Homo sapiens: one gene and its partners. The protein of the gene in region 7 purifies or fractionates together with the protein of the main gene of each other region. This does not show direct contact. Each region holds a gene or a part of one and is shown on either strand. Other genes may lie near its edges. The genes, in order: LCN1, C9orf40, ESS2, SCGB2A1, WDR81, FKBP5 and DNAJB8.

Region 1 (4,033 bases), on a different chromosome or scaffold from region 7:
TTTTTAAATCACTAGGCATCTTGATCATACTCCTGCAGTTTTAAAGTGTGTGTCAGACTTTCCTTGGCTGGTGTAAGTTCCTGTACCAATTGCTCATTTTTAGCCTGCCTTTCTTAGTGTGGTGTTTCCTTGGGTAATTTGGAACCTGGCCTTTCTAGCTTATTTCAAGGTGAGGATATTGTGTCTCTGCATTTCTGCCTTTCTCTGCCATCTTGTTGTCACTGTCCTCTGTCTAGCAGTGTTTTGTAGCCTCTGCTCCCATCCCGGGTCCCAGGCTTCTGCTCTGCAGTGATGCAGAGCATGTCACAGATAAAGTCATCCTTTCCAAGGACGGCTTGTCTCAGCTTCTGCCCTTGAGGCTGTGTTGATGTCCTCTTGCCTTCCTATGCCCACAGTGCTCCACTAAGTTATACGAAGTTACAGCCCTGGGATGTGTCAAGGAGGGTTTCTCAGCCTTCTTTCTGGAGTCAGGGAAGCCCCTCCCATCACTCCCAGGAGCCGGACCTAGGCCCTCTCTGCCTGCCTTGGGACTTGGAGCTGACAGGCCCCTGCCTCTGCCCCATCACCAGCCTGTGCTTCTCCTCCATTCCTTGTTTTATGTGAGTGTGTGTGCGTTTGTGCATGTATATATGTACACACATGCATACACACACACACACCTGTCTTGGTCTTCTGTCTGTCTGACCTATTGCTGCTCTGTGTGTGGAGCAGAGAGGGTCGTTACTGCACACCTTGCTCAGGACAGTGGACACCGTCTTTAAATGCACACGGGATCGTGTTCACACAGGAGGGTCCCTTTTTTTCCATGATGAATCTGAGGCCAAGTAACCTGCCCAGAGATGCAGGAAGCTCAGCTGAGCCCCAAGCCCACGGCCCTCGGACTCCAACCCCAAACCCCCTTGACAGTGTGCACGTCAGCAAGTGTGGGATGGCTGGGGGGCATCTGTTACGGCTGCACACGTCCCCAGGAGGCCTGCACACCCTTCACTCCCTTCAGTTTCCCTTCAGGTGAAATCTGCAAATCTGCTCCTCTGGACCTGGTCCTGTCCAAGTGATCCTCTGGGATTAACAAGCTGTTATTCACCAGCCTCCAACAATAATGGCAGGTTATCTGCTCCATTGCAGAACTGGCAGTGGTTTACATCCAGGAAGGGATTGGTCAGTCTCCTGTGCCAGGTCCCTGGGGGACCCTGAGCCCAGCGGTATAAAGGGCGGCTGTGGGAGGACTGGTACAGCCTCTCCCAGCCCCAGCAAGCGACCTGTCAGGCGGCCGTGGACTCAGACTCCGGAGATGAAGCCCCTGCTCCTGGCCGTCAGCCTTGGCCTCATTGCTGCCCTGCAGGCCCACCACCTCCTGGCCTCAGACGAGGAGATTCAGGATGTGAGGCCCGGATGGGAAGGCTGGGCTGGAGGGGGCAAGGGGCGAGGCTGAGACTGGATGGAGACCCCATGCCTCCTCCATCCAAGGAGACCCTCGTTTTTGGGTTGGGCATTCAAGCCCTGCCCTGAGGGAATGGTGGGATGGGGCAGCAGGGGTCTGGGCTGGCAGGGTAGGTGGCGCAGGGGTGCAGAGTGGGCAGGGCTGGGAGGGTGGGGGTCTGGCTGACTTCACTTCTTCCCTGGGGATGAGGGCTCCTGTGGTCCTGGCTGGCTTGTGGGGGCTGGAGCCACCTTCAAGTGGGCCTGGCGAGGGTGCTGGGTGTTTTCTGGGTGGGTTAGATTGGGGAACGTTCCCCGTTTCCAGCCCTCGGGGTGCGGTAGAGTCTAGGGGCTGCAGGCCAGGGAAGGGGGAGGCTCTGGAGCAGTCGGCCTGAGCCTGATAGAGAGGGGCCTTCTCCAGGTGTCAGGGACGTGGTATCTGAAGGCCATGACGGTGGACAGGGAGTTCCCTGAGATGAATCTGGAATCGGTGACACCCATGACCCTCACGACCCTGGAAGGGGGCAACCTGGAAGCCAAGGTCACCATGCTGTGAGTGTCTGCCAGCCGGCCGGGCAGCCTGCAACCTGGTCTAGGGCCTTCCCTTTCCCCACCCAGGAGAGCTCTGGTGCTGGGGAGGTGGGCAGACCTGCTGGGAGGCCTCTCTCGGCCCCTCCTGCAATGCTTGAGGGCAAACTGTGCCACTGAGGTGCCTCGGCTGGAGGGGCCCTGAGGGGGCAGAGGCCCCGGATCAGACCCTGTGGGCTACCAGTGGCAGCCCTGGGTACCGCCCACTTCCTCCTCCGACTAGGGAATGTCTGGTGACGTGCAGGCCCCTTTGGGAAAAGGTGTTTACCCCCGACCAGAGTCAGAGCCAGTCCTGGCAGTAAATTTCTGCTTTGGAGAAGTGCAGGGATGGGGCTTGCAGAATGACCAAGAGGGGGCATAGGAGAAGACACCATGGAGAAGACCCCCTTGAAATCCCTGTGTAGCGCTCACCTGTGCGGCTCTCACCTGGGCTGCTTCCACCCGCGTGGCTCACATCTGTGACTTCCCACCTGTGTGATTTCACCCGCATGGCTCCCTCCTGAGTGGCATGCAGTGCCTGTGCTCCGGTCCTGGGGGCTGAATCTCAGGAAGTCACTGACCCTGGCAATGACCCCGATTTTTTTTTCCCCCAAAGCCCCTCACTGAACCTTTCCCTCTCTGGGCCAGATGATGATGGATATGGGGCTTGTGCCTGAATGTCTCTAAAAGGAAGAATGCAGCTGGCGGGATGAGGCTCAGGCCCACGCCACAGACGCTGCCTGCAAACCAGGCAGCCTGGGTGCCTCTGGCAGGAAATGTGTTGGGGGCGGGGGGTTTGGGAAGGCAGCCACCAGGAGGAGCGGTGCAGAGCTCCTGGCCATCTCGGGAGACCCCGGGAACTGCCGCATGGGACCCGGAGGGGCCGCTGGTGCCTGGGTCTGAGATGCAGAGAAGCACCCTCCTCCATGGGCCTGTGGCAGACTCGGGGCCACATTTGCAGGGCATTGCAGCATGGTTGCTCCAGGGCCGGGGGAGGCACAGGCCAGGGCCGCTTTGCCAGGGGGCTTCTGTTTTCCAGGATAAGTGGCCGGTGCCAGGAGGTGAAGGCCGTCCTGGAGAAAACTGACGAGCCGGGAAAATACACGGCCGGTGAGTCCCGGGGCCTGAGCCAGAGCCTGAGCTTGAACACACGCTGGATGTGCGGGGGCAGCCAGTGCCTTTTTGGGGTGGCCTTTTGGCCTGGGAAGCCTTTTGCTGCCTTCTGACTCCACTAAAAGCCCACTCTCTTCTCCCACTGGTCAATTTGCATTAGAGACTTGAACACCTGACCCCAAACACCAGGTGTGGCAGGTTTGTCCCGGGGCGGACCCTCTGGGCTTGCCCTGTAGCCCTGGCTGTGGCTCTGGCAGGGCCAGGAGCAGAGTCGTATTTGGCTGCGGGGGGCTGTACCCCAACTCCCACCTCCGCAGACCTCATACCCGGAGGAACCCCCCGTGACTCACTGGTTTGGGATGTGGCCGCCTCTTGGGTACATCAGGTTCCTGGGAAGTGGGGGTCCCATGGCCTGGGGCTCAGGCCTGGTGGGGAACCTGGGTCAGGGAGCTCTGGGAGGCTGGGAGGGTGCAGGAGCTGCGGGGCTTGCTGGGCCTGGCAACGCACGCTGTCCCGGGATCCTCTCTGAAGTCCCTGGTGGCTAATTCAGGAATGTGCTGCTGTCTTTCTGCAGACGGGGGCAAGCACGTGGCATACATCATCAGGTCGCACGTGAAGGACCACTACATCTTTTACTGTGAGGGCGAGCTGCACGGGAAGCCGGTCCGAGGGGTGAAGCTCGTGGGTGGGTCCCGCACCCTCACCCTGCAACCCATGCCTCCACCTGCCCTCCCTCCTCCCTCGGCCTCCTGCACCCTCTTCCCCATGGGAGAAGCCACTGGGACCCAGGAACCCACTGCAGTTTTCTTAGGATGAGTTTTCCTGATAAAGGCCTCAATTCCCACCCCTGGAGTTCAGGATTTGGGATGCCCCGGCCTCGGTATCTGCAGCAGAGGCAGGAAGGAGCCACGGCTGCAGGCACAGGGGTTCAAAG
Region 2 (3,830 bases), on a different chromosome or scaffold from region 7:
TGGGATTACAGGCGTGAGCCACTGTCAGGCCCTCTTTTGAGGAAAGCCCAGTAACACTCCTATTCCTTCTTTTTGTTAGATTTGTTCTGGAGGCGCTTCTCTTTTACAATCATGCTCTCTCCAGCTTCTGTTTCTCCTTCCTGCCTCCAAAGACACAGGCTTTTTGTTTTAAGGATTTTATACCTGATTACCAAGGGAAAATTGAATATAACAAAAAGAAGTAAACAGTTCAATACAGTAAATGCCTGGTTTCTTTTGTGCTCAGAATAGGGCTTAAGTCCCAGCCCTCACCCTTGGGACTTCATTTAGGAAATACTACCTCAAATACCTTTTTTCTACATTGAGAATACAATCTAGGCAGGATAATGTTACGTCATTTCTGTCCCGGAACTTCAGGGTATTTCCTGTTTCAGATGTTTTTTGACTACAGAAATAAAATCAGGTATTCATTAAATATTCATGTATTTTTTTCATGTTAGTGTCACTATGTAGATTCACTGCTCTGTCAGTGTTAACTGTTAGTTTCTTGTTTATTTGTTTGTTTTTCATAAATTGAGATGGAGTCTTGCTTTGTTGCCAGGGCTGGTCTCAAACTCTGGGGCTCAAGCGATCCTTCTGCCTCCCAAAGTGCTGGGATTACAGGTGTAATCATGCCCAGCCAACTGTTAGATATTCTTAACAGAAAGTAAGCAGAAATGCTCTAAGGAGACAGTGATTAATGATTCATAGGCTTATTGGGATATAATACCTAGCAATATTGAGCAATTACTATGCCAAGCCTGAATTTTTACAACAGTCCTCCATTTTATCAATAAGGTCAAGATCAGAGTTAGTGGGCGGTGGAGTTATCTTGCAAACCCAGGTCTGTCTGGTGGCAAAGTTTGTGTGCCCTTAGTCACTATGTTTTACTAACATAATTAAAAGACCTTTTTTTGGTCCATGTTTATAAGTAGATAATTTGTACAGTAGATTTTCCAAAATATTAAAGTGAAATTTTTCTTAATATCTTTTGACTTATTGTGTGTTTATCCCAATATTAAGAAATTCCCCCAAAACTTAATTCTTTAAGGCTCAGCATAGAAGACAGTGAACTTCCTAATGAGACTTTCTTACAGACCTGTGCTGTCCAGCACAGTAGCCACTAGGTCATGTGGCTACTGAGCATTGATTTTTTTTTTATCTTTAATAAAATGATCAGTTTAACATTTTCTTGCTATTCGTCATGTTTATAACCTAATACTTTTTGGAAGATTTCAAAATATTTTGGCCTATGTAAAGTAAATCTCCTAAAATACCAGACCTTAAGAACAAGACCAAAAGTAAGTTATAAGGAGTGTGTCTGTGTTTGTATTTTTAAAATAAATTCTTCTTTTCCTTCTTGAAAGATAAAAAATTTTAAGACTTTTTAGATAATTTTCTTTAGGTGAAAAATGGGAGAAAAACTGTGGAAAGAGATGCTCTTGGAGGAAATTCCTTTAAATTTAACAAATACTTTCACAAATTGTAAATATTAAAATGCACAGATTTCATCGAGTACATGAAGTACTTAGATGAGACAAAATTTAAAATGTATATTTGTTAAAAATACAAAATAGAAGATTACAAAATCTTATATGAGTTTGCCTTTAAAACAAATTTGTTTTCTGAAAAAAACTTAATTTTTTCTAAGCTATTGATGCTCTTTGATCTCTCTTTTTTCTCTAAAGCACAATGAAGAATTTTGGCAGTATAATACCTTCCAGTACTGGAGGAATCCTTTGCCTCCTATTGATCTGGCAGACATTGAAGATTTAAGTGAAGACACCCTGACAGAAGCAACACTTCAGGGCAGGAATGAAGGGGCTGAGGTTGACATGGAGTCCTGATGTAAGGAGCCGAAGCAGTGGGATTGGCTGATTTGAGGAGATGTCTCTAAGTGAATTCTCGTATTCTTAAGGGAAAAGTTATTTTCCATACTTGAAGTTATATTTCCAAACCTGAGAAATGAAGAAAGATTGTTCTGACATTAAATACCTACAGTTACTACTGAACCTCTTAATAAGGATTTGTCAAGGATAGAGTACAGTTGTAGGGGAAGTATTTTATGTATGCATTCTTAGAGCAAAAAGTTTTGTTTAAATTCTAGAATTGAAGGTACTGATCTTATAAAAAGAAATTCTAGCAGTTTTAGAAATAGGTGGGAAAAACTCAAATATTCCTCCTATCTGCACCAAAAAGTTTATTTGTGGTATATAAAATGAATATTGTTTTATAATAACTTGTTAATAAAGTACTTTCTAATACATTCTATTGACTCTGTTAGTTGAACAAATAGCTGACTTGAACATCTATGCAAACTTAAGATGGGCGGGATTGTTGTAAAAGCTATTGTTTTAAAAGAGCTTTCTAAATGTAAAGTAGTGATAATTTCAATTTGGGTAGCGTGTTTGCAAAGCTTCCAATATTTGATGTTGGTTAAGCTCTACTATGGGCAACTGAAGATGGATAAAGAAAAATGAAAACTGAATCGGTGCCTGCTTCCCCCTGTTTTCCCAGGATTAGAGGAAAAAATTTATTGTATAATCAGCTTCTTGGTTTTGAATTGCTTCGAGGCATGGTTTTATTCCTTATTACTTTAGACCTGTAGTTTTCAACACTGACAGCACTTTAAAAATCTTTGCCTGGGCCTCACTCTTGAGAGATTCTCATTTAATAGTTCTGAGGTGGGTCTTGGATATAACTATTTTTTTAAACACCTGTCCTGTTTCCCTCCATTCCTCTCATGTGCAGACAGGGTTGAGAACCAGTAGACTAATGGTCGTTTTTCCTGTTTAAAGGAGATAACTAATTTGAGCTGAAGCAATGCTTCTTAATTAGCTTTGTTTTTGTTTTGCTCTGTTGGTGGCTTTGTTACAACTGAATTATTGTGTTATTACTATTTCATTGTTAAAGAAATAAAGTAAGCAATTTGTGATGTGAGTATCAGTGATTAAGTTAACTAACTTTTGTACTGCATCCAGAATGTTGGTTTTGCAATTGAGTAACTGGTTCTTGCTTGCATTTTTTGTTGTTGATGACATTAGATCCAAAATTCAAGACAAATGGTAAATGCCATTGAGAGGGAAAGAGAAAAACTTGATTTTTTTTGTGTAATGAAGGATTTAAGAATGGGTTGACATTAATAAGAATGCTTTAGAACAGAAGACAAACTGTATTGCATTGTGGTCAGACATGGTTCAAAGTCTTGTACTGCCACTTCCTACCTATGTATCTTTAAGCCAGTTATTTTTCATCTCCAAGCCTCAAATTTCTCACCTGTAAAATGAGAAATAATAAATAGTATCTACCTCAGAGAGACTGTTTATTGTCAAGCAATGTTATAAGTACTTTACTTGCATCATCTTGTTTAGTTCTCATAATAACCTTAAGGTAGGTTAAAAAAAATCATTAGAATAAACATGCTGCCTATAGTTAAAGTTTTAACTGCCTCTAGAAGTTTCAGGATAGAAATTGGAATTGAAACTTTCAGCTTATGATATTTTCAACTTACGATGGGTTTATCAGGACATAACCCCATGGTTAGTTAAATGTACTAAATTTATATCACTTTCACACTGTGGTAAAGCTGAAAAATCCTGTCAAACCATCAAGTCAGGGGCAGTCTATATATAGAAAACAGAAAGAGTTAAAATAATTCCGTCCTTTAAAAAAGTTGTTTACTAAGTAAACTTGAGGTAACAGCAAAATTTCATTGTGGATAAATTGAGGTAAAATGTGGGTTTTTAAATGTGTTATAACCCTTCACCCCAATTCCCTAATGTAACATCTTAAATTACCACAGTACACTTATG
Region 3 (3,500 bases), on a different chromosome or scaffold from region 7:
TCAGTCGGCCCTGGCCACTCCTGGCCTCTACCTGGCCTGCCCCACACCTTGTGTAACTCAGGGACCTGGTCTCCTGTCTGTACAAGGCCCTAGAGGCCAGGTGTCCAGGCTGCTTGGGGCCGTGGGTGGGCTGGACTCTCAGGCAGACCTGGCCTGAGACATCCTGGGATGACGTGTCCTGTCCTGGTCCTTACTGTGATGTCAGTGGGTGGGGGTGTGTGCACAGTGCTTATGAGTCTAAGTCTACCTAGCACTGCAGGGAGGGAGGCCCAGCACCTCAGTGGAGGTGAAACTCAGGTGGTCTTGTGGCATGCGTGGGTGTCCCTCTGCACTCTGGCCTCTGTGCTCTTGGGTGCTGGTGCTGTGTCACACGCCAGGGCATGTGAAGGCACCACAGGTTTGCCTGGGGTTCTAGGAGGTTTGGGAGCCCTGGAAGGCCTGAGTGTCTCCTCCTGCGTGGCTGGGGGAGACCTCCCAGAGGCTTGTAGGCTAAGCACATGGCTGTAGGGCCTTGAGCCTGCCTCGGGCCTGCTGGGAGCTTGGCATTTCCCTTTCGGAGGATGGAGGTGCCAGGGTTCCAGAGTCCTGGGGAAGGAGAGAGGGCTAGCTGCCTGCCTTCGTATTAGCTGGGATGCACATTGGGTGAACAAGCTGTGACTGGAGGGGAGGGTGGTGGGGAGTCCTCTGGCCTGAGGTGGTTTTGGGCTCTTTGTCTGCAGGTGTGAACGAGTCCCCGATGATGACCTGGGGGGAGGTTGAGAACACACCCTTGAGAGTTGAAGGGTCGGAAACGCCCTACGTGGACAGGACACCCGGCCCAGCTTTTAAGGTGGGTTGTGGTGATGGGGGAACTGTGTGCGACCGGGGTGGACACCTCTGGAGCCCTGAGTGCCTGTGGCTCAGGACTGAGCACTGGGATCGGCCCCCAGCTGCTGACGGGCAGAGTGCTGGCTTTTCTGAATGCCAGGGTGCTGAAGGCAGGTGTGGGTGGGTGGACCTGTCACAGAGGGATTTGGGGGTGTAAGGGCTGAGACACCAAGGCAGGGAGTGGCTTGGGCCCTCTGGATCCTGGAGGCCGGGTGCTGTTCATGAATGAGGCAGGATGGTCACAGACACGTGAGGAGCTCTGCAGGCCTGAGGGCCATAGGACGAGGCTGTGTGCTTGTAGAGAAGGCCCCTGGTTACAGAACACGATTGGGACACGCTGGATTACACGGCTCAAGCCTGGTGTTGTAGGAGTGGTCAGGGTGGAGTGTGTGAGGCCCGGCACAGACCAGGGGAGGCTCTTCGTGGGCTGGGTCAGATACAACAGGCCTCCCCATACCACTGCGGGCCTTTCCCCAGAATACTTAGTACAGGTAACCCATGTCCAGACAAAACATGGGGAGAGGTTCTGGTTACCTTGGTTCTAAATTGTCTGGGACACAAGGATAACCAAGGCAAACGTGCGAGAGGGATAATGAAGAGGATGCCGTGCTGTCCAATGTGAGAGCGCAAGGCAAGGGCTGAGGTGCTTCTGAGGTATGCCTGCCACTGCTTCCCGAGTCTCCAGGCCAACAGTAAACAGATAAATTCTGAAACAAACCATGATCCAAGTCAGAATTTGGGGCCCGATAAAGATGGCAACTCAGATTGCACTGAATAGCAGAGTATTTAGAAATGAAGGGAGCTGGGTCCTCAGGATGTGTAGCAGCATACATTGTGGAAAGGTGAAAAGGTTACATGTAAAAACAATAACCATAAAACAACCAGAAGAAAATAGTGGCGAATATTTAGTTTGATTTTTGGGTTCAAGTGATTCTCCTGCCTCAACCTCCCAAGTAACTGGGACTAGAAAATAGTGGCGAATATTTAGTTTGATTTTTGGGTTCAAGTGATTCTCCTGCCTCAACCTCCCAAGTAACTGGGACTACAGGCGCGTGCCACCACGCCCGGCTTATTTTTGTATTTTTAGTAGAGATGGGGTTTCACCATGTTGGCCAGACTGGTCTCGAACTCCTTGGCCAGACTGGTTTCGAACTCCTGACCTCGTGATCCACCCACCTCAGCCTCCCAAAGTGCTGGGATTACAGGCGTGAGCCACTGTGCCTCGCCTCTTTTTTTTTTTTTTTTTTTTTTTTAACAGATAGGGTTTCACTCTGTTGCCCAGGCTGGAGAACAGTGGTGCAATCATAGCTGATTGTAACATTGAGCTCCTGGGCTCAAATGACCTTCCAGCCTCAGCCTCCTGTGTAGCTGGGACTAACAGCATACACCACCATGCCCAGCTAATTTTGTGTGTGTGTGTGTAGAAATGAGGTCTTGTCATTTTGCTCAGGCTGGTCTCCAATGCCTGAGCTCAAGTGATCCTCCCACCTTGGCCTCCCAAAGTGCTGAGGTTCCAGGTGTGAGCCACCACTCCCAGCCTGTAGTCTAATCTTAAGTTAGGAGGGACTTTCTAAACATAAAAGCAAAGGAAGAAATCACAAATGAAAATAACAAATACAGCAGAAAATGTTATAAATGAAACAAATGTAAATGAGTGAAAAAACATGTGCACAGCGTAGCACAGTTGACTTGACACAAGGTCTTGGCAAGGGTCTTCTGAGTAACAGCAGCAGAAAAGGAAAATGAGCCCCTTGAGAGCAAAATAGGCCACAGGCACACGGGGAAGCGCCCGAAATACAGAGCGCCGATAAAGACAGAGATGTTCACTCTGATAATCAGGGAAACACTAAAACAGACTGCTTTTTCCTGAGAGATTGTCAGAGGTCATGGTTTTGGGAGGAACACGAAGACAGGTGAGGAGTGCTGCGCCTTGGGCAGGTCAGGTGGGGTTTGGGGCTTTCCAGGGGCTTTTAGTGGGAGGTGATGGGTTGTGGGGGTTTTGTAGGCAACAAAGAGAGGCTGGCACCCACCACAGTGGCTTTCTGTGTGAGGGGCTGCCTGGCGTGTGGCAGGCCTGGCGCAGCTACCCACACACCTGCTACCTTGTAGATCCTGGAGCCAGGCCGCAGGGAGCGGCTGGGTCTGAAGATGGCCAACGAGGCCGCTGCCAAGAACCGGGCCAAGAAGCAGGAAGCCTTGCGGAGAGTGACGGAGAATCTGGCCAGGTGAGGGGCCGCCTGGCTGGTGGGGAAGTGCGAGGGTGGCTCTGGCCTGCTCCTGTTCGGCCCCTGCCCTGACCGTGTGGAGGCATGGCCCACGCGGCAGAGTCCAGGGCAGGTCCGCGGGGTTCTGCAGTGGGTACTGTGGCAGCTCCTCTATCCAGAGCATGGCCGCACATGGACAGGATGAGAGGCCCCCTCCATCTTCTCTTTCCTCCACGTCCTCTTTGACCCGTCCCTAAGAGGCATCTTTAGGCGTGTGGTCCTGCTGGGAGCTTTCATCAGCCCTGTGGAGAGAGTCATCGTTCCCCTTGGAGAGGGGTGGGGACTCCAACTCTCAGAGGCCTGGGGGTGCACCCCAGCCCCCACAGCCAAGGGCGGTGCTGCTGTTTGACCTCAGGTTTGACCTGAGCG
Region 4 (4,065 bases), on a different chromosome or scaffold from region 7:
TTCACAAAGACAGAAAGGAAGCCCAGAGGGACCAGCATTGTAATTTGCCCAAAGACACAGCATGAGTACGTGTGGCCTCCAGGATCCACACCCACACCTGCCCAAATCTTATCACCTAAATCTCATCATCACCCAACCCCATTGCCACCCACTGCCTAGCACTGCCTGCCCAAGCAGTCAGTTACTCCACTCACTCACAGCATCCTCTCAGTCAGTGGATAGAAAACCGTAAAAGGCTAACAAAGAACTAAGCACAAATTAAATTATAAATATATTGTAAAATAAATTTGTAAAGTTGAATTAACTTAGTGTTGTAATTCTTAACAAGAATAACAAGAAGCTTTCAGTAGAGGTTAGATATTAATGTTTTCCCCAAAACTTAAAGCACTTTTCGGGGCTGGGCATGGTGGCTCACGCCTGTAATCCCAGCACTTTGGGAGGCTGAGTGAGGTGGATCTCCTGAGGTCAGAAGTTCGAGACCAGCCTGGCCAAAATGGTGAAACCCTGTCTCTACTAAAAATACAAAAATTAGCCAGGTGTCCTGGCGCATGCCTGTAATCCCAGCTACCCAGGAGGCTGAGGCAGGAGAATTTCTGGAACCCGGGAGGCGGAGGCTGCAGTGAGCCAAGATCGCACCACTGCACTCCAGCCTGGGCAATAGAGTGAGACTCTGTCTCAAAACAACAACAACAACAGCAACAAAACCCCAAAAAACAAAAACAAAAAAACCCGCTTTTCTGAAAAAGAAATGTCTATGGATTAGGAAGGTCTGCCTCCCATAGGAAGATGCAGGTATTGCACATAGCCCAAATATTTGATGATTCCAGGACCGGCAGATACACAAGTTATGAAACTGTTTGTACCTTGAAGAATAACGAGAAGAGGAGGAGACCAAGAGGAATAGAAGAAAAAGAATAGAAGGAGGAGGAGGAAGAAGGGAAGGAGGACTAGAAGAAAACTACAATAATAACAACATTGTTGAGACCACAAGATCACGCCACTGGGTTTTGCTTTATATTTTGGAAAACACTGTCACATCCATTTTACTAAAAGCCATGTATCATTATTGTAGTCCCCAGATTGTCAGGGATCCAAATATTACTGCCTTCTTGGTTTCTACAAACAGAGCACAGGCTGGCTGTGTTCCCATTGGTGTACACTATTGTGTCCTGGTCCCATGCCAGGTTGACACATTGCCTCATTCCTGGGAGGGACTAAGGTGCCTCCCTGGGGAATAAATAGAGCAGGGCTGGGTACTCACCTCCACAGCAACTTCCTTGATCCCTGCCACGCACGACTGAACACAGACAGCAGCCGCCTCGCCATGAAGCTGCTGATGGTCCTCATGCTGGCGGCCCTCCTCCTGCACTGCTATGCAGGTGAGTTCTGGGCAGAGAGGGCTGCTTCTGGGCTAGGAATTGTCACCTGGGCCCCTGTAGAAGAACTCCCAACCTCTAATCCCCAGCACAGACGAGCCCCAGTGTGAAGGGCCTGGGTGCGATAGGCCTTAGGATCCCCATGAGTTCCTGACAATCAAGCATGCAGTGTCCTCATGGGCTGTCCCCTGCATTGGAGCTGCACACAGTGTATCATGGCACTCAGCGTCTCACCATGGTCACGGTGACCATAGAAACCAGGATGAGTCTCAGGATTAAATATTGAAATGAACTATTTCAGTGGGGCAAGGGAGAGATGGCATCTACACCTAGAAATCAGGAAATAATCATGGGTCTCCTTGAATATGGAACGAAATAGGAAACCTCCCAGGACAGAAGGCCCAGGCTGCAGAGTGTGACCCAGTGTCTCTCACCCTGTGTGGCTCACTCTGTGTTCTCAGAGTTGATCTGGGTCCTTCTGGGATGCCCTTACCCTCCCAGTTGCTTCAGGCTCAAGGCAGACAGGTGAGAACTCACAACCCCTGGAGTCTCCTTCCAGCACTAAAGATTCAGTGGGAGGAAAAAGCCCCGGCTGCTGGAATCAGCGCTAATATTTCCATAGGTAGCCTGCCTTGTGCAGTTCACAAAGGTGGATTCCAAACCCTACCGTATTGGCATCCAAGGTAGGTGCAGATGTGTAGAAGGGTGACAAGCTCACAGTCAACTAACTGGAAAATCACAAAGTCCAGAGCACAACCAGCTCACATGAAGCCACGTCCTGAGCTCGTTCCTCTCCCTTACAGTGGGAGGTGACCTCAGATCCCCTCATGAACAAGCTCTATTTCACATTCATGTGTGTGTGTGTGTGTGTGTGTGTGTGTGTGTGTGTGTGTGTTTGAGACAGGGTCTTGCTCTGTCACCCAGGCTGGGACTGGGACTGGTGTGCAATGGCACAGTCTCAGCTCACTGCAACCTCTTCCTCGAAGGCTCAAGTAATGCTCCTGCCTCAGCCTCCCGAGTAGCTGGGACTACAGGTGGACACCACTATGCCTGGCTAATTTTTAAATTTTTTGTAGAGATGAGGTCTCCCTGTGTTGTCCAGGCTGGTCTTAAACTCCTGAGCTCAAGCAATTCGCCTGCCTTGGCCTCCCTAAGTGCTGGGATTACAGGCGTGAGCCACCATACCTGGCCACACATTCCCTTTTATTGCAGTAGAGTCAACAGAACTAATGGACAATGTCCTAGACCCATTCATCTGAAATCCTTGGAAACCCTACCTGATGCTGGGCATGATAACAGGGAAGCATTGCATGACTTTGAACCAAGAAAGTCCAAGTAGTGTTTGCTATGTCCCCCCAGTCAGAACACCTCATTTCTCGAGGGTCCTCTTCACCAAGAATACACAGGGTTGGGCTTCTCTGGGTTTGGAAGGTCAGAGAGAATTTGCAGAGCCTGAGTTTACACTCCCAGAATTGAGAACTCTGCATACTGCACCAAAATCTTTCTGAACCTCGGTCTGTCCCTGGAGGTACGAAGATAGCCAGCTTCCCAATTCATCTGTAGAATGAATCACACCTCTAGTAATGGCCCATGTTCTTGTGTCTTTTTTTTTTTTTTTTTTTTTTCCAGATTCTGGCTGCAAACTCCTGGAGGACATGGTTGAAAAGACCATCAATTCCGACATATCTATACCTGAATACAAAGAGCTTCTTCAAGAGTTCATAGACAGTGATGCCGCTGCAGAGGCTATGGGGAAATTCAAGCAGTGTTTCCTCAACCAGTCACATAGAACTCTGAAAAACTTTGGACTGATGATGGTAATTTGGGTTTCTTCTTATGTACCCTTTGAAAATCACTGATCAGAACCAGCGGGCTCTAAATTTGGCACCAAGAATGCCAAGCAACTGGTGAACAAACTTTCTTTATATATCAATTCATTAAACTTTGTCTCCAGGCTGCTTTGCCACTTCACATTGAGAATCTTTAGGGAGTGATAAATGGAAAAGGCAAAAAGGAGAAAAGAAAGCCTTAGAGATCACCCGTCTACCTCTGACCTCACCAGTCCCTTCTCACACAGACACAGACACACATAAGCACACAAGTATAGACACACACAGACACACGGGGACAGGCATCGGCATTTTTTTTTTTTTTTTTGAGACGGAGTTTCGCTCTGTCACTCAGGCTGGAGTGTAGTGGCGTGAATCTCGGCTCACTGCAACCTCCACCTCCCGGGTTCAAGAGATTTGCCTGCCTCCACCTCCCGAGTAGTTGGGATTACAGGTGTGCGCCACCACGCCGGGCTAATTTTTGTATTTTAACTAGAGAAGGAGTTTCACCATGTTGGCCAGGCTGGTCTCAAACTCCTAACCTCAAGTGATCTGCCTCCCTTGGCCTCCCAGAGTTCTGAGATTACAGGTCTGAGCCCCCGCACCCAGCCAGAACATGCACATTTTTATCAAGAGAAAATATCTGGTTCTCAAGAGATCACACACTTGTAGGAGCAATCTACTAAGAAATTTCCTACTTTCACAAAAACAAATATTCAAAACATTCTTATTTTTTTTTATCTAGCTCAGAAAATACAATTTGTGCAAATTCTGCATTTTCTAAAATAAAGAAAAAAATTTTTTTGAGATGGAGTTTCACTCTGTTGCCCAGGCTGGAGTGCAGTGGCATGATCTTCGTT
Region 5 (3,500 bases), on a different chromosome or scaffold from region 7:
TCAGCCATGAGGTCCTGCTGCCCGTGCTCAGCTTCCTCACCTCCCTCGTCACGGGGTAGGCCTCTGCCCCAGCTGATGTAGGGGGACCGGCCCAGCGGAGGGGCTGCCCAGGAGGGGGTGGGAAGCTCAGGGGAGAGGACGTAACACTGGACTGGGTGTCAAGAGTCCTGGTTTTGATCCCGGCTGTGTGACCCTGAGCAAACCACACCCTTTTCCTGTGCCTCAGTTTCCTCATCTGGTTTGGACCAGTTGGTCTTGGAGCTCTTTCATTTAAAGCTTTTGATATGTCCGGGCACGGTGGCTCATGCCTGTAATCCCAGCACTTTGAGAGGCTGAGGCGGGAAGATTGCTTGAGCCCAGGAGTTCAAGACCAGCCTGGGCAACAAAATGAGACCCCCTCTCTAAAAATATATATAAAGGCCGAGCGTGGTGTCTCACCCCTGTAATCCCAGCACTTTGGGGGGCCAAGGCGGGTGGATCACGAGGTCAGGAGTTTGAGACCCACCTGGCCAACATGGTGAAACCCCGTCTCCACTAAAAATACAAAATCTTCGCTGGGCATGGCAGCAGGTGCCTGCAATCCCAGGTTCTCGGGAGGCTGCAATCCCAGGTTCTCAGGAGGCTGAGGCGGGAGAATTGCTTGAACCCAGGAAGCGGAGGTTGCAGTGAGCTGAGATCACGCCATTGTACTGCAGCCTAGGCGACAGAGCAAGACTCTGTCTCAAAAAAAAAAAAAAGTATATATATATGCTGGGTGCTGTGGCTCATGCCTGTAATCCCAGCACTTTGGGAGGCCAAGGTGGGTGGATCGCTTGAGGTCAGGAGTTCGAGACCAGCCTGGCCAATATGGCAAAACCCTGTCTCTACTAAAAATACAAAAAAAATTAGCCGGGTATGGTGGCTCATGCCTGTAGTCCCAGCTACTCGGGAGACTGAGGCAGGAGAATCGCTTGAACCCGGGAGGCAGAGGTTGCAGTGAGCCGAGATCGCACCACTGCACTCCAGCCTGGATGACAGAGCAAGACTCCATCTCAATAAAAATAAAAATAAATAAAGATTTTGCTAGATTCTGGTCAAGTCCTGCAGAACGGCGGGCTGGAGCTCATGAGCTCTGTTTCCAGGTTCCCAAGTGGGGCCCAGGCTCGGACCATCCTGTGTGTGAAAACCATCAGCCTCATCGCCCTCATCTGCCTGCGCATTGGACAGGAGATGGTCCAGCAGCACCTGAGCGAGCCCGTGGCCACCTTTTTCCAGGTCTTCTCTCAGCTGCATGAGCTTCGGCAACAGGTGGGCAGATCTGCTGGGCCAGGGCGGGCTGGGGCGGGGGCTGTGGACCTGGGTGACCCCCTGGGCATCTTGCTCATAGGATCTGAAGCTGGACTCCGCGGGCCGTGGCGAGGACCAGGGTGGGCCAGGGTGGGAGCTGTGGACCCGGCTGACCCCCTGGGTGTCTTGCTCATAGGATCTGAAGCTGGACCCTGCGGGCCGTGGTGAGGGCCAGCTGCCACAGGTGGTCTTCTCTGATGGGCAGCAGCGGCCCGTGGACCCCGCCCTGCTGGACGAGCTGCAGAAGGTGTTCACCCTGGAGATGGCATACACAATCTACGTGCCCTTCTCCTGCCTGTTGGGTACTGCCCCATCACGTTCCCCATCACAGTCTTCGTGGCTGTCTCCTCCCTTGGGAGGCCCCATTCTCTGCCCTTGCCCCAGAGTCAGCAGTGGGTTCTAAGAGCCAGCAGGATGGGTGAGAGCAAAGGGATTTGGCCTCAGACCCCTACCCCCAAGGTGACACACAAACAAGGACTGAGCAGTAGCCAGCAAGAGAGGCCCAGAAGCTGGCCTGTAGTGTCCCTGGGGAAGGCAGGAGAGTCAGGGAGGTGGACTGGCGGTCCGCAGGAGCTGGCGAGAGGGAAGGAGTGGCCTCCTGTTTACGAAGCTTCCCCTCTGGGCCCTGCACGGTGCTGTGCTGATCGTTTCAGCGTGTCATCTCCCTGGAGAGGACAGACAGCCTTGTGGTTACACCTGTTATCATCCTGCCACTGAAATCTAAGCTTGGGAGGCCAGGGCACCACCTGTCTTGTTCCATATTCTATTCCTAGTGCCCAGCACGGCACGGCACATATAGAAGATGCTCATGTGTACATCACAACGGAATGAATCCACATTTCACTGAGGAGGAAACTGAGGCTCAGAGACAGAGTTACTTGCCCAGAGTTGCAGAGCCAGTTCCTGCCCCATCTTCTGTGGCTCCCGAGTCCTTGGATGGGTGATAGCAGCCGCCTGCCATCTTCCCTGTCTCAGGACCTCTCCCACTCCTATCCAGGTGACATCATCCGGAAAATCATCCCCAACCACGAGCTGGTTGGGGAGCTGGCGGCGCTGTACTTGGAGAGCATCAGCCCCAGCAGTCGCAACCCTGCCAGCGTGGAGCCCACCATGCCCGGCACCGGGCCCGAGTGGGACCCCCATGGTGGGGGCTGCCCTCAGGATGACGGCCACTCAGGGACCTTTGGGAGCGTCCTGGTGGGGAACCGCATTCAGATCCCCAATGACTCTCGGCCTGAGAACCCCGGACCACTGGGCCCCATCTCGGGGGTGGGTGGCGGGGGCCTGGGCAGCGGGAGCGACGACAACGCCCTGAAGCAGGAGCTGCCGCGGAGCGTGCACGGGCTGAGCGGAAACTGGCTGGCGTACTGGCAGTACGAGATCGGCGTGAGCCAGCAGGATGCCCACTTTCACTTCCACCAGATCCGCCTGCAGAGCTTCCCGGGCCACTCGGGGGCCGTCAAGTGCGTGGCACCCCTAAGCAGCGAGGACTTCTTCCTGAGCGGCAGCAAGGATCGTACCGTGCGCCTCTGGCCGCTGTACAACTACGGCGACGGGACCAGCGAGACGGCCCCACGCCTCGTCTACACCCAGCACCGCAAGAGCGTCTTCTTCGTGGGCCAGCTTGAGGCCCCGCAGCACGTGGTGAGCTGTGACGGGGCTGTGCACGTCTGGGACCCCTTCACAGGTGAGCGGGCCCAGGTGAGGCCTGTTCTCTTCCTGCTCCTGCGCCCCACCAGGCCTCCAGGAAGGGGGCCCGAGGGTGGGGCTGTAATGCTGCGGAGTTTGGGGAGACCCAGCGAGGCCGCCTAGGAGAACAGTTAGGGCTTCGAATCTGTTAGACTTGAGTCTGAATTGGCTCCACCGGCTTACTTGCTGAGTGACCTTGAGCAAGTTCCTGCTGCTGGAAGCGTCTCCTTTCCCATCTATAAACTGAGAATCAGAAAAACTGGCGTAGAAGATAACACACAGCCGGGCGCAGTGGCTCACGCCTGTAATCCCAGCACTTTGGGAGGCTGAGGCGGGTGGATCACGAGGTCAGGAGATCGAGATCATCCTGGCTAACATGGTGAAACCCCGTCTCTACTAAAAATACAAAAATTAGCCGGGCGTGGTGGCGGGTGCCTGTACTCCCAACTACACAGGAGGCTGAGGCAGGAGAATCTCTCAAACTC
Region 6 (3,500 bases), on a different chromosome or scaffold from region 7:
AAAGTAACTTCCTTTTCATTTTTTTAGTGGCATAGTCTAAAACTGCTCACAATCCTTTTGAAAGACTAAAGAATAGGCCAGGTGTGGTGGCTCATGCCTGTAATCCCAGCACTTTGGGAGGCCAAGGCAGGCGGATCACAAGGTCAGGAGTTCAAGACCAGCCTGGCCAACATAGTGAAACGCTGTCTCTACTAAAAATACAAAAAAAAATAGCTGGGCTTGGTGGCGGCCACCTGTAGTCCCCAGCTACTCGGGAGGCTGAGGCAGGAGAATCGCTGGAACCCGGGAGGCGGAGGTTGCAGTGAGCTGAGATGGCGCCATTGCACTCCAGCCCTGGAGACAGTGCGAGACTGTGTCTCAAAAAAAAAAAAAAAAAAAAAAAAAAAAAAGACTAAAGAATATTAGCACCAAAGAACATAGCCCAGAAGCCTTGCTGTACTACACCTGCTGAAGGGACGGATGGAAATGCTGCAGAGCAGCACTAGGCAGTGCTCAGGCACTGCCCCAAACCAGCCCACAGGCCATCGAGGCCTCCAAGGGAGTGGGAAAGGTACCTGGAGAGCCATCTCCAGAAGGAAAGAAAGAAACCAGCTGTACCAGGGTTTGCTGGAGGGGTTGCTTCACTTTGAGGATTTGCTTTTCTTTTGTACCCCCTCAAGAGCTGAGTACAAGTAATGACGCTTTTTTATCCTAGGGAGGCAAATACATGCAGGCGGTGATTCAGTATGGGAAGATAGTGTCCTGGTTAGAGATGGAATATGGTTTATCAGAAAAGGAATCGAAAGCTTCTGAATCATTTCTCCTTGCTGCCTTTCTGAACCTGGCCATGTGCTACCTGAAGCTTAGAGAATACACCAAAGCTGTTGAATGCTGTGACAAGGTAACATCGTGTCTCCTGTGAGATGGACTTTAGATACTCCAGATCTTTTCTCCATCTCTGTCTTTTGCTTCCTCTCAGCCAAAGGTTGCAGGATTTTTCATTTTGCTTTTTTTTATTTATTTGAATGTTTGGGATTATTTGTTTCTCAGTATGAATTGGGAAATTCAGCAAGATTTTTATTACAGTCAGACTTTTATGATACCTAGACTGTTTATCATAATGCATTCTGAAGAAAAGTTTTGATTAAAATTAAATAATTTTTATCCACGACCTTCCTTATAACTGTAGTATTTATATCAGAGTAGACGTATAACTCCTCAGGTTCAGTTTAATAAGAGAAGATTTAACTTAAGCTTTTCTGGACTTTAACAGACTGCAACTGTTCATATAAAGCATATATATAGGTCAATTTTTATTATAATCATTTATTCACTGATATGCATAAATAATATGAAAGGTCCACAGAGCATCAGCAGCCTTTTTATTTTTACATTTGTCTTATTAATACTATCTTTGGTCTTTTGAGTGCTTACACACAGTACTCTATAACAGTGGTTTATCATCTGTATCGTTATGTATCGTTCTGATATATTTATACACCAGCCGATACTATTTTAGGTATCTGGTCTCAGAGTGAACAGTATATATTATACTGTGGGTAAAAGTAAAAACTAATCATTGGATGTATCTTAAAGGTAGACATAAAAGGATAAGAAAAGCAAGGCAACTATTTTGTACATTCTTTGTGAGATTATTTTTGAATTTTGTGGATCAGTGTTTCCTATCGCATCCTCTCTCCCAAGACCAGTTATTAATTTTATATGTATTTTTTCGTTTTTTTCATACAGAGCGGAGAGAGAGAGAGAGAGAGTGTGTGCGCGCGCGCGTGTGTGTGTTTTGTTTGTTTTAGAGACAAGTTGTTGCTATTTTGCCCAGGCTGGGGTGCGGTGGCTATTAATACACATGAACATAATGTACTACAGCCTCAAACTCTGGGGCCCAAGCTATCCTCCCACCTCAGCCTCCTGAGTAGCTGGGACTACAAGTGCATGCCACCACACCCTGCTAATTTTTAAATTTACTTTTGTAGAGATGGGGGTCTTCCAAAGAGCTGGGATTAAAGTTGTGAGGTACCACACCCAGCACAGCCTTGACTACATTATTTTTCTGTCTTCTATTGACAGAAGCAGTCATATAGCATCACTATTAACCCTATCTTTGGCAATAGGAAGCCTGTTCTCCTTATTTTCCTCTTTTTTTTTTTTTTGGAGATGGAGTCTTTCTCTGTTACCCAGTCTGGAGTGCAATGGCACAATCTTGGCTCACTCTAACCTCCACCTCCCGAGTTCAAGCGATTCTCCTGCCTCAGCCTCCCAAGTAGCTTAGACCACAGGTGCCGACCACCACACCAGGCTAATTTTTGTATTTTTAGTAGAGACAGGGTTTCACCATGTTGGCCCGGCTGGTTTCCAATTCCTGACCTCAGGTGATTTGCCACCTCAGCTTCCCAAAGTGCTGGGATTACAGGTGTGAGCCACCACAACCCAGCAATTTTCTTTTAGCTTTGTTGATTATATCTTTCTCTTTAAAGAAGGTTTTAATGTTTATGTAGTCAGATTTGTCGTCTCCTTTCTAGTTAGAAAAGACTTCCCCACACCAAGATTATAAAAATAACTGAAGCCAGGCACAGTGGTTTACACCTGTGACCTGTAACCCCAGGACTTTCGGAGGCTGAGGCGAGAGGATTGCCTGAGCCCAGGAGATAGAGGCTGCAGTGAGCTGTGATTGAGCCACTGCCCTCCAGCCTGGGCGACAGAGTGAGACCCTGCCTCAAAAAAATAATGATTATATTTTACATATTTTAAAATAAAAAATAATTGAAACATTTTATGGTTTTTTTTAATATGTAAATATGGTTGATCTAGAATTTACTTTTGTGCTTACAATATGAGGTAAGAACTTTTTTTTTTTTTTTTTTTTGGAGACAAGAGTCTCACTCTGTCACCCAGCCTGGAGTGCAGTGGCACGATCTCAGCCCACTCCAACCTCCACCTCCCTGGTTCAAGCAATTCTCCTGCCTCAGCCTCCCAAGTAGCTGGGATTACAGGCGCCTGCCACCATGCCCAGCTAATTTTTGTATTTTCAGTAGAGACAGGATTTCGCCATGTTGGCCAGGCTGGTCTCGAACTCCTCACCTCAGGTGATCACCTGCCTCAGCCTCCCAAAGTGCTGGGATTAGGGTGTGAACCACTGCACCCGGCCTTAACTCTTATTTTCTATGTGGATAGCTGCCATCCTGGCCCCGTTTATTTTAAAGTTAACTCTCCACTGATTCACATTACCACCTTTGTCATTTTCAAATGTTTTTATATGCAGACACATGACTGTTTCTGAATGATTCGTTCTGTTCCACTGAGCTGTTTGTCCACATGCTAGTAACCAAACTGTCTTAATTTCAGTAGTTTTAAAGTTTGTCTTTTTCTCTGGTAAGACAAGTGCCTCTTATTTTTTTCTTTTTTCCCAAATTTTTTCAGCCATTCTTGGGCACTTATTTGTTCCAATGAACTTTAAAATGAACTTCTCAAGAGCCCCCTCTCAAATCTCCTTGGGATCTTTCTAG
Region 7 (4,055 bases):
AAGAAGTGTTCCACTCAATTCTGGTAAGAAAAATAGGAATTGATGATAAATATTGATTACTGACTGTAGTGGGTTGAATGGTGGCCCCCAAAAAGATATGTTCCTATCCTAATCCTTGGAACCTCTGAATGTGAGCTTATTTGGAAAAAGGATCTTTTCGGATGTAATTAAATTAAGGATGTCGAGATGAGATCATCCTGGATTATCTGAGTGGGCCCTAAATCCAGTGACACATGTCCGTATAGGAGATGGACACTGACGCAGCTGGAAGCTGGGGGCCAGGAGGGTTCTCCCTGCAGCCTCCAGAGGGAGTGCGGCCCCACTAACACCTCGATTTCAGACCTCTGGCCTCCAGAACTGGGGGAAGAGATTTCTTTTGTATTGAGCTACCCAGTTTGTAATAATTTGTAACAGCCCTAGAAAACGAATCAGGTGAGTGAGGTAACCAAATATTCTTAGGCATTTATATTCCTTTAATTCTTGTTCTGGTGTTGGATCATATATAGAAACAGCAATTCACAATACTGATTAATATCTGTTCCTACCTTCACCTCACCCCACTCCAATTAAGATCAAAACCATGCTAAACCACCTACTAACCACACCAATAAAGAGCCTAGATGTTTGGGTCACCAAGTCTTAACTAAAGATAGCCTTCCTGCCTGCCTTCTTTCCTTCCTCCCTTCCTCCCTCCCTCCTTCCCTCCTTCTTTCCCTTCCCTTCCCTTCCGTTCCCTGCCTTCCTTCCCTCCTCCCTCCCTCCCTTCCCCCTCCTTCCTTCATTTCCTCCTTCCTTCCTTCCTTCCTTCCTCCCTTTCTCCTTCCTTCCTTCTTTCTTTCCTTCCTCCCTCCCCTTCCCCCTTCTCCCTTCCCTCCCTTCTTCACTCCTGGCTTCTTTCCTTCCTCCTTCCTTCCTTCATTCCTCCCTTCTTCCTCCTCTTCCTTTTTCTAGTCTTCATCCCTTTCTATTATCCTCCCTCTCTCTCTTTTCTTTCAGTGCTCATGGGTGCTAGGTTTCAGGCTCCTAGCAGGGGACAGTGTGTGTTCTAACCAATCCCAAATGCCAGGAGGAATGGAGACAGACTGTAGAGACACTTTGTAAACCCAGCCTCCAGTGACCATCGCTGTCCCTCCATGCAGCTTATCAAAAGCACGACTCGCACCCCCATGCTGGGCATCCACCCACCTACACCTGCTGACACATGTGGCTTAGCAGAGGAGTTGAAGAGCAGAACTTCTCCACTGGATGTAGCTACAGATGAACCTGATTCTTTATCTCTGTGGCTGGATTTTTGTCACTATGTCTCGGTTAGCAGTTAGCACCTGCTGTCCCTTGCAGGCTTGTTCCTGGGGCGGGAGAAAGATGCTTGCCCTGCACAGTTCTCCATGATGGCGGTGGCAGTGGGAGAGGCACTGCTGTTGACTGTGTTGCTGGTGGGGAGAGGCACGGTGGGTGTCCATGGAGATGGATAAGGTGTCATTATATAGTAGAGGTGACCATGGGAGCAGTGTTGATGTGGAGGTAATGGTCATGGTGGGTGTGAGGGGGAGAGTAATTATGGGTGATGGTGGAGTTGATCATGATGATGGTGATGCTGGTGGTGACAGCAGCAAGGCTTGTGCTTGAGAGTAATTGATGATGGTAGTGGTGGTGGTGATGGTCATGCCAGAGGAGATGGTAACAGCGAGCCTTTGTTGTGGTTGGCAGTGATGGTGCAGGTATGATGAGGAGGTGATGGGAATGGCTCCTAGTGAGCCATTGGTGTGGTTGGCAGTGGTGACAGTAATGGTGATGATGAAGGTGAAGGTGGTGGAGGTAGCAGAGGTTGTATCTTGTTCGGCTATACCACAGTGACAGCTTCCACCTCTCAGTGGCTCACGACAAACATCTAGTTCCCCCCACTTCACTCACTGGTGCCTACAGGCAGCTGCCAGGGCCCCACCTCCCATAGCTTCTCACTGTGGGTCCCAGGCTGGAGAATCAGCTCTGACCTGCACACCCCTCTCTCATGACAGTGCCACTCAGAGACAGCAGGAACTTGGGCTGCCTCTGAAAGCTTCTGTTGGGCCATGATGTGTGGCAGTCTTGCTGCATCCCATGGTCAAGGCCAGTATCCATGGGGCAAAGAATGTTTCCTTCAGGAAGGTTCTGCAAATCTCAGGGCAATAGGAAGAGAGGCCTGAGATTCCCATGGGGAAGAGGGAGTGAGCAGTTCTCCAACATATGCCAGATGCTCAAGATGGGACTGACAGCGGGGCTGGTAACGATGGCTCTGCTGGGAGCAGTGTTGGTGCTGCTGGTGCCGGGGACACCCGTGGTGGTGATGGGATAGGAGGCAGGAATTGTGCTATTAATGGAGGATGGTGGTGAGGGTGGTTGTGGAAGAGGCAATGGTAGAGGGGGGTGCCGAGGGGTGAGAAGGACACAGTGGTGGACATGCTGGTGTGAGTGCCGATGGCGATGGTGATGGCACTGAGGTGTGGGGCTCTGTATTTTCTGTTGCTAACTTGGCATTACACCAACCTCTTCCATGGTCTCCTTGCATCCTGGAGAAATCTGAGGGATTTTCCAGAATCCCATCACCGGTATAATTCCAGACTAGAGCCTGCCAATACAAGGGATTTGGAGAGTGGAAAAGAGAGGCCGTTGCAGGCAGGTGACAATGGTGAGCTTTGCAACAGCTCGGGGCAATCTTCTGCGAAGACCCTGCTTCTGAGCCACAGGCTGAGGCATGGATGGGGAGCTTCCTGGAATACCGTGAGCTCCTCAGCAGCTCCCAGGCAAGCTCTAGAGAGCCGCTCACCTGGGAGCTGCAGGTGAGCATCTCGATTCCTTGTTCCCTGACCGCTGGTCCCAGACTGTTCAGGGTGCAGCGTGTAGTAAATGTCCTCCTCCTTGGTACACATTTGAGGGCTGTGTACTGTGAGGGTGATGGCGGCTCAGATGAAGGTGGTGGTTGTGATGGAGTTGGGTGTGAGGATAGCAGAGAGAAAGCAGATGGTGACATCAGGAAGGCATTGGAGGGGCAGTGGTGGTGGCAGTGATGATGGTGGCAGTCTAATTAGAGGCAGTGGTGGGTCTGGCTGAGGCAGACCCGGTGGTGGTGATGGTGGTGGTAGTAGAGGGGGCAATGACGGTGGTGATGGCAAAGGCGGTGTGAGTGGTTGATACTGGTGGCAGAGCTGATAAGGTGATGTCACAGATGGGATGGTGGGTGGAGATGGAGGTGGAGGAAGTGTGGTGACAGTGATGTGGTGGTGACACAATGCTGACACGGGTGGAGAGCACCGTGGTGACGGTGACAGAGATGATAGTGATAGTGGGGCTGGTGGCAGTGGTAGAGGAGATGGGGATGGGACGCTGGGGTGTTGATGGTGATGGTGACACTGCTGAGGGTGTTGGTGGCCTGACATTGTAAAGGTGAAGCCTGAAGTTTCCATGACGATGGAATCAGGACAGTGGAGGAGGGGTGGTGAAAACAATGTTAAGAGACAAAGGACCTAGTATGATGAGGCATCCAAGAATCCTGTGGCCGCCTCCCCGTCCTGGCCCTCCCTGCCTTGTTGGAGACCCTGGCTCTGGTCTGCGTTGTACTCCCAGGGGAAATTTCTTCCAGCCACTGCCCTGCTCCAACCCTTGTTCCTGGGATGGGTCTGTGGGAGTCAGCCAGGATGGAGACAGGGCTGGAGACCCCCTCACTGCCGCCCATTCAGGGCTGTCTTAGGGCACACAGAACAGACCACTCGGTAGGACTTACGGGAACAGGTGTGTCACCTGGGAGCAGGTCCCACACCTCACCATCAAGGGCATCCTGAGATGGAGGCCCCTGTGGGGAGCTCCCCATGAAGGGAGCTGTGGACCGTGGAGCCGGGCAGTGTGCAGAGGAGTTTCCCTTCTGCAAAGGGTTCAGGCTAGTCTCCTTCCACGCCAGTTTTTGGGGAGCCAGTGGGGAGCATCAGGGGCTCTGAGGCCTCCATAGGGCCTGCTGGAGGGACAGGGACACACAGGCATGAGCGCACACTTAGGCCCCACACGCTCCACCGTCAATTCTGTCA

What was found.
Region 1: the proteins of DNAJB8 (region 7) and LCN1 purify together in Homo sapiens (affinity purification with mass spectrometry; 2 studies listed by BioGRID and IntAct, with this or other methods). This does not show direct contact.
Region 2: the proteins of DNAJB8 (region 7) and C9orf40 purify together in Homo sapiens (affinity purification with mass spectrometry; 3 studies listed by BioGRID and IntAct, with this or other methods). This does not show direct contact.
Region 3: the proteins of DNAJB8 (region 7) and ESS2 purify together in Homo sapiens (affinity purification with mass spectrometry; 3 studies listed by BioGRID and IntAct, with this or other methods). This does not show direct contact.
Region 4: the proteins of DNAJB8 (region 7) and SCGB2A1 purify together in Homo sapiens (affinity purification with mass spectrometry; 3 studies listed by BioGRID and IntAct, with this or other methods). This does not show direct contact.
Region 5: the proteins of DNAJB8 (region 7) and WDR81 purify together in Homo sapiens (co-immunoprecipitation; one large-scale study listed by IntAct). This does not show direct contact.
Region 6: the proteins of DNAJB8 (region 7) and FKBP5 purify together in Homo sapiens (affinity purification with mass spectrometry, with the first as the bait; one large-scale study listed by BioGRID). This does not show direct contact.

What each region holds. Positions count from the first base shown.
Region 1 is NC_000009.12:135,520,207-135,524,239, forward strand, and holds the start of LCN1 (lipocalin-1 isoform 1 precursor), read left to right. Parts: upstream 1-1,233; 5' UTR 1,234-1,291; coding exon 1,292-1,381; intron 1,382-1,840; coding exon 1,841-1,971; intron 1,972-3,025; coding exon 3,026-3,096; intron 3,097-3,673; coding exon 3,674-3,784; exon of another isoform or gene 3,785-4,033. UniProt on the Homo sapiens protein: Could play a role in taste reception. Could be necessary for the concentration and delivery of sapid molecules in the gustatory system.
Region 2 is NC_000009.12:74,946,083-74,949,912, reverse strand, and holds the end of C9orf40 (uncharacterized protein C9orf40), read left to right. Parts: intron 1-1,706; coding exon 1,707-1,865; 3' UTR 1,866-3,330; downstream 3,331-3,830.
Region 3 is NC_000022.11:19,134,652-19,138,151, reverse strand, and holds part of ESS2 (splicing factor ESS-2 homolog), read left to right. Parts: intron 1-719; coding exon 720-829; intron 830-1,205; exon of another isoform or gene 1,206-1,813; intron 1,814-1,892; exon of another isoform or gene 1,893-1,943; intron 1,944-2,976; coding exon 2,977-3,092; intron 3,093-3,500. UniProt on the Homo sapiens protein: May be involved in pre-mRNA splicing.
Region 4 is NC_000011.10:62,207,408-62,211,472, forward strand, and holds the start of SCGB2A1 (mammaglobin-B precursor), read left to right. Parts: upstream 1-1,265; 5' UTR 1,266-1,324; coding exon 1,325-1,379; intron 1,380-3,005; coding exon 3,006-3,193; intron 3,194-4,065. UniProt on the Homo sapiens protein: May bind androgens and other steroids, may also bind estramustine, a chemotherapeutic agent used for prostate cancer. May be under transcriptional regulation of steroid hormones.
Region 5 is NC_000017.11:1,731,204-1,734,703, forward strand, and holds part of WDR81 (WD repeat-containing protein 81), read left to right. Parts: coding exon 1-55; intron 56-1,121; coding exon 1,122-1,287; intron 1,288-1,462; coding exon 1,463-1,628; intron 1,629-2,323; coding exon 2,324-3,013; coding exon of another isoform or gene 3,014-3,027; intron 3,028-3,500. UniProt on the Homo sapiens protein: Functions as a negative regulator of the PI3 kinase/PI3K activity associated with endosomal membranes via BECN1, a core subunit of the PI3K complex.
Region 6 is NC_000006.12:35,577,416-35,580,915, reverse strand, and holds part of FKBP5 (peptidyl-prolyl cis-trans isomerase FKBP5), read left to right. Parts: exon of another isoform or gene 1-359; intron 360-694; coding exon 695-880; intron 881-3,500. UniProt on the Homo sapiens protein: Immunophilin protein with PPIase and co-chaperone activities. Component of unligated steroid receptors heterocomplexes through interaction with heat-shock protein 90 (HSP90).
Region 7 is NC_000003.12:128,464,091-128,468,145, forward strand, and holds the start of DNAJB8 (dnaJ homolog subfamily B member 8), read right to left. Parts: upstream 2,801-4,055; 5' UTR 2,524-2,800; intron 1,347-2,523; 5' UTR 1,186-1,346; intron 24-1,185; exon of another isoform or gene 21-23; 5' UTR 1-20. UniProt on the Homo sapiens protein: Efficient suppressor of aggregation and toxicity of disease-associated polyglutamine proteins.